Linked DNA regions of Homo sapiens. The protein of the gene in region 2 interacts with the protein of the main gene of each other region in a biochemical or structural test. Each region holds a gene or a part of one and is shown on either strand. Other genes may lie near its edges.

Region 1 (7,583 bases), on a different chromosome or scaffold from region 2:
GGGAAAGGGCCAGCTTAACCACGCAGTATTGGATGGAGTGCAGTATCCTACTCAATAAATGAGGTTTACTTTAGTCTCTTAGTTCTTGGAATGGGTCATGTGTGTTTAAAAAAAAAAAAAAAAAAAAAAAGGAGGGGGATCATAATTATTTCTAATGTTCAGAAAATACCTATTACCTAACCTCCTTCAGCCAACACAAGTATCATCTGAATTACCTCTGTCTGACTGTTATATATGGTTATAAGAAAACCCAGACCATTTCCTACAAGGGGAAAAAAAAATCACACACCTCTAAAAGACAAAACAACAAATGACACATTCTGGAGACAGATGGGGGAAAAAAATAACTCTCTGTTTCCAAATGACCCCTCTGCAGAAGTAAGATAAAGGCTGCAGTGCATGGGGAGAAAAAAAATCAACCTGAGTTAACTGAAGCAGCAGCTTCGGCAACTTCTAGTACCTATGCACCTTCACCATTGTTATATAACCAAACCATAACCTTAATAGGCCATCGTACTGTATGTCGACAGCTGTTAGGCACATCTAAGCTGTCCGCATTTGAGAACCCCTTCCAAAGTGGATTCAGAGAAGCATGGAGCAGGCCAAAATATGCTCCTAGTTCACCCAGAGCACGTGACAACTCCTTGTGAATTAAGCTTCACTCATGTAGTCAGAGTAATTTAAGCAGCAAAAGATATAGCACTTGTAACTGTAACTAGGAAATTGCACACTGCTACAGAAACACAAATGAATGCTGGTGTGGCTCCTTCACACATGCAACTCATTGTCCAAGCCATTTCAGTCTCATTCAAGACTTTGAATATTTCCATACATAGGAATTGCACAACTGCATACCACAAATGATCAAAGATAAAAACCAACATAAACAGTGACACCCGTTTGTAAACAAGCCAGTGTTTAAAATGCTGCAGTCCTAAAGGATACCAAGGTCTCAGAGAAAAACTATGAAAAACACACGCACGCACATATACACACACATGAAAATTAGAAAGCGGGCAGACCAGCCATAATTAGGCACTGGCTTTGCTGACTACTGAAGATAGAAATGTCTCTTTTATATTAAAGCCAAGAATCAACTGTTTGCAATTACATTTACGAAAACATTCAACCCTGTCTGTAACAGATTTTATCAATATTTTGGTGTATCCAAGGGCTGGAAGATTCAAAATTCTTTAAATCATGAAACCATAAACCAGGCAACCAATTAAGTTCATGGAGACTATCCCCCAGAGGTCAGAGCAAAATAACCACAGGAGCACAAAGTGATTACACAGAAAATAGGCAGAAAAAAAGGAAAGAAATAGCAAAACAAGGAACAAGGCATATTGTTTGTAAATGTAAGTTTGCCTTGGCTAATAGTCAACTAGACTGGAAACACGGTGAGGGGCTGGGGTGGCAAGTGAGGAGCACACCAAAGTCTTGGCTCAATCGACTTCCCCTGACTTCCCCTCAGGGTCTGAGGGAGCCCTGGACTTTGGTATCTCATTCAGCTCTGACCTGCAGACTGGAGGCCCTGTGATAAAAACGGACAAAAAGGCTGAAGAGGGCCCTCCAGAGGAAGTGAAACTGACCAATCAATTCGCCACAGCCACCCACCCTGACACCCTGGTAAGAAGGGCCCCTTGTAGCCTCAGGCAGAAAGATGGTGGGGAAGGAACTTCAGGTTGCAAGTGATCAGGAGAGAAGGCCTAGATAAGTCACTGGCTTCAGAAAACAAGCCACTGCCAAAAAAGCAAAAACAAGGTAGGTCATGACAACCAGAGGCTAGGCTGAGGAGGTGAGGGGAATTGATGTGGCTTTGGTAGGAGGCGGCAGCAGCTGTAAGGGTTCTTCATTCCTCAGGCTGAGGGAAAACACAAGCTGCAGTTCTAAACATAATGAATGACTACATTAAAAGTATTCATTCAAGTAAGATATTGAGCAAAGAAAATTTTAGAGTAAAAATGGGCTTTGCGGGTTCCACCAAAACCAAAAGATTCCTCCTGATGTCTTAGATTCCAGTCCTCCCAACGAAGGCTACATGAAAGTGCTACCATATTTCCTCAAAGAATTTTACATGCATACATATATAGCTTCCTAATTGACCTTGGCCAATTTCACTCCTATAGCGCCTCAAATCCCTTTGAGAACTAAGGGCTCGATGAGTGTAATCTCCCGGTGTCTGGGTTCTTCAATCACAAGCTTCCCCCCAACCAGTAAAAGCCCACCCTGGGTTCTACAAAGCCCACAATTCCCGACCCTCCAACAACTAAAAATAACCAGCAATCAGCTCTCCCAAATTGTTTAACCCCTGACTACCTAGTGCCATCATAAACCTGGGACAGCCCCCACCCCCACCTCACTCCCCCATTCCCTGGGCCCCTTCCTGTGGACAAGCAAAGCAATTTCCCCCTTATTTCCCCATTTTCCTCATTGCCTCCTCCACTAATCGTGTCTCCTCGGGATCCCCTTCGCACCATCTATCAGTCTTAGATGATCAAATGCGGATTCCTGTCTCTGTCTTAAGGCACCAGGATCCTGGGACCTCCCAGCGCCCTGCAGACGTGCACATTCCCAGTCCGTGCCCCAGCCGTCCTGGGTCCCCTTACAAGCCCGGGTCTGCCACTTCACCCTTGTTTTTCCCCATCCTCCGGGTCCACATTTCATATGCCCCTGCCCTCATTCCCTTATGATTCCCTAGCTGCTGGTTCCAGAGTCTTCTGGGCTTACAGTCTCCCGGCCCTCGGGGAGTTCCGACCCCTTCTTTCCAATCATCCCCTTTACCCGCCTGCCCTCAGCCCCGAGGACCCCTCCCCGCGCCCGGCTCCTGGGCGCCGGTGCTCTGTGCCCTCGGCCCCCTGCTTGGAGTTCCGCCGTCTCGAGTCCCAGGTGTCCCTAGCTCCGCGCCCGCCCCGCCGCGGCTGGCTCCCTCCCGCCTCCCGGCCCCCAACGCTCCCACCACGCGCCGCGCTCGCCGCCCCGACCCCCCGGCTGGGGGGCGCGGACCTCTCCCGGCCCCGCCACGCTCCGACTGCCGCCTGGCCCCTGCGCCGGTACCTTGGCCTTGGTGACGAGGTGCGTGGCCCGCTTGACCACCGCGAAGTTGCCCTTGCCGATGGTGCGGTCGATCTCGTAGTAGCCGATACGGGCGGGCATGGGTCCGCGGGAGGCCGGGGCTGGGGGACGCGGCTGGCCGGCCGCAGGGGACACGGCAGCGGGGGCGGCTGGGGACCCCGGCGCGGGCGGAGGCAGCAGGCGGCCCGCGGGCCCGGCTCCCCCAGTCCCGGCCCCGGCAGCCCCGCCAGCTCCGCTCGCCGCCGCCGCCGCCATCTTGTTGTGCAGTGAAACCTCCGGGGCCGCGGGGAGCCGGCTCGGGGGAGGGGGCAAGGGGGGGCGGGAAAGGGGGGGCCGCGGACGTCACTCGGGGAGGCGGGGCGCTTTCGCCGACCGGCGCCCGGCTCCATGGCAACCGCGGGTCACGTGCCGACGCGCGTCACTGCCCGGAGCCATGGCAACCGTGACCTCACCGGCGGGCTCGACCTTCCCGCGTGGGCCCCGGTTCCTGAGGCGCTGGCTCCCGGGTGCCCCCCTCCGGGAGCTGGCGGTGGGAACCTTCGATGGGCCCCCAACCTCGAAGTCTCCGCCACCTTTCCCGAGTGGGGGGCGCAGGATGCCCGACCCAAAGCCAACCCCCCACCGCCGCTCGAATCGCCAATGTGACCTCTGCTGTGACCTCTGTCCCAGTTCAACGATCACCCAACCTCCCTTAACAAAAAAAAAGTGTTTCCTCATCACCAAAAATACCAGCGTTGTCCCACTTTAGCCCTTGAGGCCACAAATGCAGGAATAGCTACACTCTTGAAGCAACTGTAACCAAGTTGGTAACAACGCAGGGGAATTCTTCGGTAAAATTCCTTCCTCTTACAAAATCCAGCTCACCCTGCACAGTCAACCTAATTGTCACCGAATATAGGAGAATGGGGAAACTAGGATTTGCGTGTTCAAGGGCGGACAAGCCAGTCCAAACAGGCATTCCAGTCATTGGGTGGGTGACAGCCAAAGAAGGTACGTCATTTTCCTTCCTACCACCCCCATCTCTGAACAATTCTACAGGGATGTCTGTCAGAGTGCCTACATACTATTTCTGTTGCTTGTATAACCCTGATGAAGCAGTGGTGCGCATTGTCCAATGAACCACGTCGTGTTTAAACAACAGTCGGTTAAGCAAAATAAATAAGTAAATAATAAAAATTCCATCCTTCCTAGTGACTCTCCGAGGACATTGAGGGTCATCAAGTTAATAACTCCAGCAATTTCATATCTCTTTTTCTTCCCTTGCCTATTACCTGCATCCTTCATAGCTCCCAGGCTTCCTCCTCCTCTCTCCCCTTCCCTTTATTAAATAGATTAACTTAGCTGCTTTAGGTGAGGGTTGCAGGTAGGAAATCAGACTGTCAACAAAATAGTCTTTGGCAGGCTGGGTGGAAAGGAGGGAAGATTGTGAATATTCCAATGTTAAAATGTATTCCTTTGGACTAGTCCTGATCCATCCATATCTATGTCTCTCTCAATGGTAGAACTGTATTGTGAGGTCACTGCATGCACAGTATTAAAAACTGACACCCAGGGCACTGTAAATGTGTGGAAGGATAACTCGTGTTTACTCGCTGACCAAAGAACACCTCCTGGTGCTCCAATTCCCTATCCAACCATGAGTAATGGCTGGGACTTAAGATGGGACAGAGGGGTCATCCCACAATGGTCTTGGATCTATTCCCTGGTAGCTGTTCCAAACTGCCAACACAATTAACACTAATTGGCTCCCTTATTAGCAACTAAAGATAAGAATGAAGTGGGCCTTGGCTTCTTGCATTGGTTAAGCCCTTTCATCAGCTGAGCTCATTCCATCCCAGATAAATGATGGGGTGTGACCTGCCTCTCCTATCACTTCATGGCTCTCAGCTGCCTCTAGCAGGGACTATAACTTTGGTGCTGGGCTTCACAGCTGCAGTTTTTGGGTTTTTGTTTTTTTTTTTAGACAGAGTCTCACTCTGTCACCCAGGCTGGAGTGCAGTGGTGCAATCTCAGCTCACCACAACCTCCACCTCCCAGGTTCAAGCCATTCTCCTGCCTCAGCCTCCCGAGTAGCTGAGACTACAGGCGCACACCACCATGCCCGGCTAATTTTGTATTTTTAGTAGAGACGGGGTTTCGATATGTTGGCCAGACTGGTCTCGAACTCCTGACCTCGTGATCCCCCCGCCTCAGCCTCCCAAAGTGCTGGGATTACAGGCGTGAGCCACCGTGCCCAGCTACAGCTGCAGTTTTACCATCTCCCTGGGTGTCTCAACAGAAACCTTAGCTGGCTAGTAAAGCAAATAAAAAAATCTTTCACTGTGGAAGCTGCAGGAGCAGCACTGAAACCATTCTTACTGATGACTGTATGATCACAGAGTGTCCTCCACTAATGGAGGTAATTCGAACATCAAATATCAGAACTTTTGCTACTCTCTCAAGAGTGTCAAAAACAAAAACAACTCTGGGAAGGACCTAGAAAATGCAGCATTGTTCTAATTTCCACAGAGAAGAAGCAGATGACTCTTGTCCCTCAATAATGACCAGAACATATGCTGTGTGCTGTGTGTTATGTCACTTACGCTCCTTTCCTGTATAGATTGAGGTCACTAGATGGTGTTTCTGATTGAGACTTTGGTAGAGACTTGCTGGAGATCTCCTTGAAGAATAGTCCTCTTTGGCACAAAGAATATAGAAAATTAGAGAAGGGAGTAATCAAAGGAGATCATCAGGCAAAAAGGAAAATAGTTTAGATGTTTACGTTTAATAAGGATTTATTGAGTACCAAGAACTGAGTTAGGTTCTGAGAGAAACTCAGAGGAAATAGCAATCTGCCACGCGTTATGCTAAACAGTGTACCTAAGGGAACTCACTTAATCTTCACAACAACCTAATTAGATGGTTTGTATTATATCTCTATTTTGCAGATAAGGAAAATGAGGCACATAGGGATTAGGGGAATTGGCCAAAATCACAGAGCTAGAAAGTGATAGAACTGGGATTAAAACCCAGGCAACCTACCTCTGGAACCTAGGATCTTCCCCATTGTATTATAATCCCTGTCAAGGTAGGAGCCAGTAGGAAAAGTGGTCTCTCCATTAAGTTCAGGGTGACTGGGCTCAGTTTCGACCCAGGGAAGAAGAGTATTTTGAGAGGTCTTGAAAGCAGGACAGAGCAGGTAGCAGAAGCGCAGGAATAAAGACAACAAGACAGTAAGACTGAATGAAGTGCCTGCGATGGCTTCACTTGTAAATAGCACCAAGAAGAGTATCATGGCTTATTGTGTAGAAGTATTTCTGGCCCTTGAGGCCACACCTGTAATCCCAGCACCTTGAGAGGCCGAGGCGGGCGGATCACAAGGTCAAGAGATCACGACCATCCTGGCCAACATGGTGAAACCCCGTCTCTACTAAAAATACAAAAAAAATTAGCCGGGCATGGTGGCACATGCCTGTAATCCCAGCTACTCGGGAGGCTGAGGCAGGAGAATCGCTTGAACCCAGGAGGCAGAGGTTGCAGTGAGCCGAGATCGTGCCACTGCACTCCAGCCTGGCAACAGAGCAAGACTCCATCTCAAAAAAAAAAAGAATAAAAAAGAATATAGGCCTGGCCAGGCACAAGTGGCTCACACCTGTAATCCCAGCACTTTGGGAGGATGAGGTGAGTGGATCACTTGAGGCCAGGAGTTCGAGACCAGCCTGGCCAACATGGCAAAACCCTGTATCTACCAAAAATCTTTAAAAAATAGCCAGACTTGGTGGTGCATGCCTGTAATCCCAGCTACTTGGGAGGCTAACGCACAAGAATTGCTTGAACCCAGGAGGCAAAGGTTGCAGTGAGTCGAGATCGTGCCATTGCACTCCAGCCTGGGCAACACAGTGAAAACTCCTCTCACAAAAAAAACAAAATACAGGCCTATAAGTGTTGTGTTCCTGTCCTGAAGAAGACTCAGAGGAGTGGCTTGGGGGTGGAATTCTCAGAGCCCCTGTAATGCAAGACAAAGGCAGAGAGATAGACCCTTCACCCAGCTCCTAATCAGCCATCATTACCAACTCACCCTTTTCTGAAAAAGCAAAAGATAGATTCAAAGAGGAAAACGAGACATTTTCCTATGTAATGTCATTGTGTCCTGTTTCCAGAATTTGAAAAGAGCAGACCAAGTTATTCTCAATGACAGTGATAGGAACTTGGAAACTTTTAGAAGTGATACAGAATGTCTGAGGACCTAAGGTCTGACCTGAGAGTGATACAAACAGTGAGATGTCACATATTTTCAGTGATTTTCAAAGAACACTTAGGCTGCCTGCAGAGCAGTTTACCTGCAACCTGAAAGAAAATTGCAGCCTTACAATGTTGCTCCTTAGACTCTCGGAGCATGAGGACTTGAAGAAAGCCAGGCTTTGCACTTTTTATTGGTCCAACTCATTACTACTCTGAAAAAAAAAAGAAAAAAAGCTAAATTTATACATGCAATGTTGATACAGGAGCATTATTCAGAAATTCTGTAT
Region 2 (7,755 bases):
GAGGCAGGCGGATCACAAGGTCAGGAGATCGACACCATCCTGGCTAACACCGTGAAACCCTGTCTCTACTAAAAATACAAAAAATTAGCCGGGCGTGGTGGCGGGCGCCTGTAGTCCCAGTTACTCGGGAGGCTGAGGCAGGAGAATGGCGTGAACCTGGGAGGTGGAGGTTGCAGTAAGCCGAGACTGTGCCACTGCACTGCAGCCTGGGCAACAGAGAGAGACTCTGTCTCAAAAAAAAAAAAAAAAAAAAAGGATCACTTCAGCCCAGGAAGTAGAGGCTGCAGTGAGACATGTTTATGTCACTCCACTCTAGCCGCCTGGGTGACAGACTGAGATCCTGTCTCCAAAAAAAAAAAAGTTAAAAAAAAAATAAAGAAATTATCTGCCAGAAAAAAAAGGCCAGTGTTGGGGTTTGAAAGGTCCACCGAGATTTGGTGCAAATAACCCACCAGAGCCCATCTGCAGACTGCCCTCATCAATGATATCACTACTGCTTGACATCATCCTGCCAGGCAGAGACAGATACTCTGCTGAGGGCCTGTCTCATTTGGCATCACTCTAAGCAGAGTCCCTGAGGGGCTGCCAGGAGCTCCCGGGCTACTCACAAGGGGGAGTGCCTATTAGGAACCTCTGCTTTCTTTCCAGATGCGTCCAGGACTAATTGAGAGATTAAGAGGAAGGCCACAGGTGGATGTCACAGAGCCATTACTGCCAGCCTCTTTCCTTCCCACTCTGGAGAGCACAGGCTTCTGGGCTCTGCCACTTGCCCAGCCTCAGGAAGGCTACACAAAGCCTGCACCTCCCAAACTAGAACATCCAAGGAATAGCAGCTCTCCTAGCTGGAAAAACAGCACCAAAACCAAGGGACATTCTTCCACTGAATCCTAAGGCTCTTGAATTGGCAGGGAAGCCTGGAGAAGGAGGGTGGACAGAGAGCAGCAGCCCACTCCAGCATGGGCCAGGGCCATCTTCCTGGTCTCATCCTCACTTTGGGGAGCTATGTCTGGCATAGGCGTAAGACAGCCTGGCATGGGTTTAGCCTGTGTACAGACATCCTGTCTCTGTGAGAGGTGAGCATCTATTTCCAAGGCTCAGCCCCTGCGACCAGCCAAATAAACAGGCCCAGGGCAAGGCCATGGGGAGGAGGGCAGCTGAGGAGGGGCAAGTTCTAAGAGCTTCCAGGGTCACACTCTTGTACAGAAGCCAACATCAGAACTGACATTCTGTTCCAGGAGGTCAGCCTAGTGAGCACTGTGCTGACCTCTGGACCACTTGAAGACCACTTGAGGTCTCATATATGGCAACCCCAGTATCTCAGTGGTATAGCCTCCCATGGCCATCTCTGTCTCAAATGAGCCCTCCCACCTGGCCAGATAACAGGCTGAGTCCCAGATCTCTTGTCCCTAGCTCTAGACTTTTGGGTCCCCTGGCCATGTATGCCCACTAGACTTTTCTGTGTAGCTGAGAAATTAACCAATAGGAGCAAGGTGGGTAGAAGGGGCCTTTTAAGAGATCGAGGCACCGTAAAGAGAAGCCCCAGCTTTTGAGTTTCGCACAGCCTTTCTTTGCACATACGAGCCCTAAGATCCCACCATGCCTCTGCTAGAATCACAGTCCTGAGGGCAGGGCCTCACGCTATCAAGATCAGCCTCCCATCTTCCTGTCTCTGTCCCCAACATGATGAAAAAGCTCCTAAAGGGGAGCAGTCTACAGTTAGATAATAATCCTCACAATGGTTACAGTGGGTTATGCACACACATGCATTTAAGTGTGCACATGCGTGCACAGACACCCTCCCAGATTTGCCTCCCCACCTAACTTCTGACTCCCACAAACTAGGGCACATAGTCCCTAGAGACTCAAAGGGGAAAGGACGAGAAAAAAAAAAAAGTAACAGAGTCAAGGGGGATACACACAAAAATACAACCAGAGTCACAGTCATAAATGCAACCACAGTCAGACCAGCAGAAAAAGGCTAGAGATGTTGTAGTAATGTTCCACCATCAATCCTTAAATTCCTTCTAGCTCTCTGCCATGAGGAATCATTGCAATATCCTTACCTACTGTTGTTTTAGAAGAATGTGTCCCTAAATTAAGACTGCATACCACCTAGGCGGACTCCTACCCCTTGGTCCCTCTGACCTCCAGCCTTGGAAAGCAAGAAACCAAGCCAGGGGGGCTTCAGAGGCAGCCTGGCAGAGGCCTGAAAGTTCTTTCAAGAACTCCTAGGAATGAATATTCTCAACACATAGAAGACCCTCCAAGGCACCCTACACACTAACCCACAAAGCAGCCAACTCCCTAGAAAGCTCAGCAAACCATAGAGTTCCACACAACTTATGGTCGGACGGTTACCCAGTTGTCGGATTCAAAACCCTACCTCTCCTCCAAGGAGGCCAGGACAAAACACCAAGCAATGGACCTCACCTTCATTCACGTCAGGAAACCACAAGAAGTATTTGAAAAAGGAAGCAAAAGGACGGGACGCAGGAGGGGACTTCCTGCCCCACTATACACAGCACCGCTCGTTCAAACCACTCAAGGGGCCCTTTCCCGGGGGCACCAAAGCGCAGAAGGCAGAGGGACCAGTTTGGAGGAGATCACAAACTCAGAGGAGCCAGGTTACAGACAAGCAGCCCTCCTCCCAGGCCATACCCCAATACCAGGCATGCTTCAGTAGCGTCCTCGAGGGGACTCCGTCAGGGATGCACAAGGACCACTCACCTCCTACCTCCGCCGGACTTCATCTCCCCTCTCCGCCCACTCCCACCTCACGTACTCGGCCCCCAGTCGCCTCTACACCCCGAACCTCTCCGGTGTTTCGGTCTCCCCCGGCAAAATCCTTCTTCCTGCCCCTCGGCCCTCAACCTGCGCCTCCCAAACGGCGGCGCCCGCGTCCCCTGCTCTGTTCCGCCTCCTTCGCTGCGGCGCCCGCCCCCGCCCCGCCTCTCCGGTCTCCGCTCCGTAACTGCTCAGCTCTGCTCCGGCTCCCCGGCGCGGCCCCTCACCCGGGTGGAGCCGATGTCCATCATCACCTCCTCGAAGGCCGCCGTCTCCTCGGCCTGACGCTGCTTCTGCAGCGCAATCTTCTCACTAAATTTGCGCGGATTGGAAGCCGAGGCCGTGGCCGAACCAGGCCCGTTCGCCCCCGACGTCGCCATCTTCCTTCCCCGTCCCTCCCTGCCACCCTCCCAGTACCAGCCGCGGCCTCCGCCGCGGCCTCGGCCCGGCTCCTCCAGCCGTAGCCACCGCCGCCTCAGCGAGCACCGCGAACCCGGCCCCAGCCTAGCCCTGACCTGTTGCGCGCGGGGGCCGCCGGGAATTGTAGTTTGTTTACGAGACTCCTTCACATCCCCAGTCACGCAGCACTAGGAGGAAACGGACTCCACTTCCCAGCAGCCCTGCTGACTCCGGAAACTGGGGACTTGGCTCCACCCTCTCGGCTACTCCCTGAGAGGTGCAAGCTGGGAAGAGTAGTTCTAAATTAGCCCTGAGACTACGAACGGAAAGGAGAGAGGGATTGAAGAGAGAAGAAAGGAAGAGGGAGGGGAGGGAAGAGAAGGGAAGCCGAGGGGTGGAGACCGGGAAAGAAGTACCAAGACACAAAGGAGGAAAAATTAGGTCATCTTCAGGGAAGGGGACTATCGGGTCCTGAGTGAAAACAGTGAGACCAAGAATCTTAAAACAGCTGTAAACATCTGGGACTCAGGCCCTCTCAGGCTGGCCACATGCCCACCCCTTTCCCAAAACAAACGAATCAGATACTGTACAGATGTCTAGAAACATCTTTTATTTGGGTAACAGGTCCCAAAACAGGTCAGTTAATAAAATAGATTCTAAAGAATATGTCCCTATGCACAGCCCTCCCTCCCCAAAAATAACGCTGGGGGTAGGCATTGCCCTTCCCCCTTGGGCTCCTCGGGTGTATTTAAAAAAATGTTTTGGCAGCTCAGTGTTTATCATCTGGGCATGGGACACCATGTCCATGTCCCCATATTCCTAGGGTACAGCAGCAGTAGATGGCTGCAACAACCTTCCTCCTACCCCAGCCCAGAAAATATTTCTGCCCCACCCCAGGATCCGGGACCAAAATAAAGAGCAAGCAGGCCCCCTTCACTGAGGTGCTGGGTAGGGCTCAGTGCCACATTACTGTGCTTTGAGAAAGAGGAAGGGGATTTGTTTGGCACTTTAAAAATAGAGGAGTAAGCAGGACTGGAGAGGCCAGAGAAGATACCAAAATTGGCAGGGAGAGACCATTTGGCGCCAGTCCCCTAGGAGATGGGAGGAGGGAGATAGGTATGAGGGTAGGCGCTAAGAAGAGTAGGAGGGGTCCACTCCAAGTGGCAGGGTGCTGAAATGGGCTAGGACCAACAGGACACTGACTCTAGGTTTATGACCTGTCCATACCCGTTCCACAGCAGCTGGGTACCCACCTCCAGCCTCCCATGTGAGCCTGTCCTTATGTATAGTGTCCAACCTCTGATTCTAGCAGTCAAGTGTCTTCCCCAATCCTAATGTCCCCTGATATGTCTCTAGCGACTTGACCATCTCTTGTTCCTTGGGACTGGGGCCAGCCTCTTGTCTGCCCACTTCCCTCTCATTAGTCAGATAGCCCCAAAGGCTCTATCTTTAGCTCCCAGAGAACTTTTTGGTCCTCAGTATTTCCCTTCCCCTTTCCTTCCTATTCCCCACAACTGGGGGAGGGAAGGGAGAACAGGGGCACCTGATCATCAATCTCCCCTGCCCCTCTCTTGAAGCCCCCTAGATTTGGATGAAGAGCAGGCCAGTGAGCAGGGCAAAGCCTGCTAGGAGCAGAATGACCTTGAGGATCCTTTGCTCAGAACTGGCCAGCTCCTGGGGCAGGATTTCCAGAAAGGTGATATAGAGAAAGGTGCCAGCTGCCATGCCCTCTAGCACAGACTGGGCCAGCTGGTGCAGAGGTCCTGCCGACTCTGCCAGAGCTGCACCCAGCCCGATGCCTAGAGGTGTCATGCATGAGAAGAGGATCCCACAGCCAGCCACCACCTGTGCCCTAAGGTGGCTCTGCAACAGCCGCAGGGACAGGCTGACAGCCAGGATGCCCTTGTGGAGCAGCAAAGCCAGGCACAGCTCCATGGCCCGAGCCCGGTCTCGCTGCAGCCCTACCGCCAGCCCCTCGAACACGGAGTGGAGGGCCAGGGAGAACACCAGTACACAGGCACGCAAGGCTGAGGGGGTTGCTGGGGCTCCACTCGCCTGTGGGACCCCTGGCCCATCATGCCAATGCTGCGGCCCACCATTCACTGTTCCCAGCAGAGCCCTTGTTTCCTCCAGAGGTGACGGCCCTGACTGCTCCTTGTAAGCCAGTGTGATCTGCTCCATCACCAGGACCAGGAAGAAGCCCATGGCCAGGATGAACTCTTGCAGTGGGAACTGGAGCTGTGGGCAGAAGCAGCAGCAAAATGTTCAGGGAAGGAAGAGTGAGATGCAAAATCTGGTGAAAGCCCAGTTACACAGACCTAGGGTCTGACACAGACACAGGGCTACTCTCAGTCACACAAAGATAGAGTGAATTGGTAACACTGACACAGAATGATACGTACACACAGATTATGGTGTCACTCACAGTGTTACGTGTAGACCAAAGTTTCTCAGCTTTGGAACTATTAACATTTTGGGGCCAGGGGCAGTGGCTCATGCCTATAATCCCAGCACTTTGGAAGACCAAAGTGGGAAGATCACTTGAGGTCAGGAGTTTGAGACCAGCCTGGCCAACATGGTGAAACCCTGTCTCTACTAAAAATACAAAAATTGGCAGGGTGTGGTGGTGGATGCCTGTAATCCCAGCTACTCAGGAGTCTGAGCCAGGAGAATCACTTGAACCCAGGAGCCAGAGATTGCAGTGAGTCGAGATTGTGCCACTGCACTCCAGCCTGGGCAACAGAGCAAGACTCTTTCTCAAAAACAAAACAAAACAAAAACAAACAAACAAAAACATTTTGGGCCAGATAATTCTTTGTCATGGGAGCTGTCTTGTGCACTGTAGATTGTTTAACAGCATTTCTGATCTCTACTTACCAGATGCCAATAGCAGGCACAATGTTCCCTCCATCCCCCTCCCCATTGTGACAACTAAAAATATCCCCAGACATTACCAAATGTTTCCTGAGGGGCAAAGCCACACTCCTAGTTGAGAGTCACTGATGTAGACATACATGAAAAGGTCACACATTGCCCATCTCCCCAAATACTCATACATAGAGCCACATATCACAGGACATTCAGGCTTATACGCAGTCACACGGAAACACAGGTCACTCAGTCACAGACACACAAAGGGATACATCCAGTGTTACTTCCTCAGTTTTAGAGGAAAAAAGGAAAGAGCCCAGGATGACTTTCCTGCCCCACTATCCAACGGCCTCAGTTTTTCCTATAATAAACCAAGTCCTATGCCGTGGACTTGATCATTCCTCACAGCCCACTTCCTTGGGCCAAAGCCTAAAAAGGTTAGCAACACCAAGACCCAGGGAATCGCTTCCTATCCTTCTCAGGCCTACAGAGACCTCTATCTCCAGCCCTTTAGGAAAGTGGTGAGAGAGTGAAGATGATTCTTGGAGCACTTGCTGGTAGCTAGAACTGAGAACCCATAGAGCAAGTCACACACCTGAGAAAAAGTGTCTTACTGTCTCAACGGGAATGTAGGGGTCACACAGGGAATGGGGAAGGGGGAGGGAACACATAGAAAGAATTATGCCCCATAACCAAAAATCACAATTCATACCACATGCCAAAAGTCTTCCACACAGTCATGGAGTGGCACATGAATCAATCTCCACAAACCAACACTCCCAGAGGTGTGTGATTCCCCTCCCGCAAGTCACATGCCCAGGCCAGTGCTCACCGTCACGTGCAAGGCTGCCAGGGCCTCATCTATGGCAGCCAGGTAGTCAGGCAGCAGGTCCAGGAGACAAGTGGCCAAAAAGACGCCCCCCGCGAAACAGCTTACTAGGCTCAGGGCTTTCTGGCGGGAAGCTGGGTAGGGGTGAAGCACAGAGGGGAATAAGCAAACAAACCCCCTCCAGGGCCGACCACCCCAACCCAAACAATGGCTACCCTTGCCTTTCCCTCCTCCTTTGGTCACTCCCCGCCAGCCCCAGAGCCCTCCCTAAGCCAAGCATTCATAGCAGTGTGGGGAAAAGGAGAGGCTTACCTGAGCCTTCATGGTTAGCTCCTGGCCGGCGCAGCACACAGATGGGCACCAGGCTGCAGAGGAGGGTGAGCACCAGCAGCAGCACCAGGGCCCCCAACTTCACCTCCAGCCCCACAGGCACTGGAGGCTCTGAAGCTACCGCCTCGGGGCGCCACACCAGGAGCTCTGGCTCTCCCCAGGGCCCCATGATGCTTCTGGTAGCTCCAGTGACTCTCAGACCTAGGAAGACAGACCAGAGTGGTTGGGAAAAATCATGCAAAGGAAGATGGGGCAAGGAATGGGGAAGCTTGGTCAGCAGAGTGCAGCTCCCTGGCCCCAGCCACTTTGTGACCTTCCCCTACCCAGGGTGACTCATCTACTCCTGTACCAGGAACATTCCTCTCTTCTCACACTTTCTTTCCCAAGTGACTTATTCAGGGAGACTGCACGGGGGAAACCGAGGCATGAGAAAGGCTGTATGGATATCTCATCACCCTTTCACCTGGTGCCCCCAGAAAACTAGGAAACTAGGAGCCGCCTCCAAATAGGACCTGGAGCTGGAGTTCCCCTAAGGAATGTAG

Evidence for each region. The genes of interacting proteins can lie anywhere in the genome.
Region 1: of the proteins of CRTC2 (region 2) and SIK3, one has a biochemical effect on the other in vitro, tested with the Homo sapiens proteins (one study listed by IntAct).

Annotation. Positions count from the first base shown.
Region 1 is NC_000011.10:117,095,086-117,102,668, forward strand, and holds the start of SIK3 (serine/threonine-protein kinase SIK3), read right to left. Parts: upstream 3,344-7,583; 5' UTR 3,331-3,343; coding exon 3,058-3,330; intron 1-3,057. UniProt on the Homo sapiens protein: Positive regulator of mTOR signaling that functions by triggering the degradation of DEPTOR, an mTOR inhibitor. Involved in the dynamic regulation of mTOR signaling in chondrocyte differentiation during skeletogenesis.
Region 2 is NC_000001.11:153,955,334-153,963,088, forward strand, and holds the start of CRTC2 (CREB-regulated transcription coactivator 2), read right to left. Parts: upstream 3,280-7,755; 5' UTR 3,165-3,279; coding exon 3,012-3,164; intron 2,898-3,011; exon of another isoform or gene 2,751-2,897; coding exon of another isoform or gene 2,728-2,750; intron 1-2,727. Other genes in the region: SLC39A1 (zinc transporter ZIP1), read right to left, coding at 4,765-5,421, 6,887-7,017, 7,196-7,382. UniProt on the Homo sapiens protein: Transcriptional coactivator for CREB1 which activates transcription through both consensus and variant cAMP response element (CRE) sites.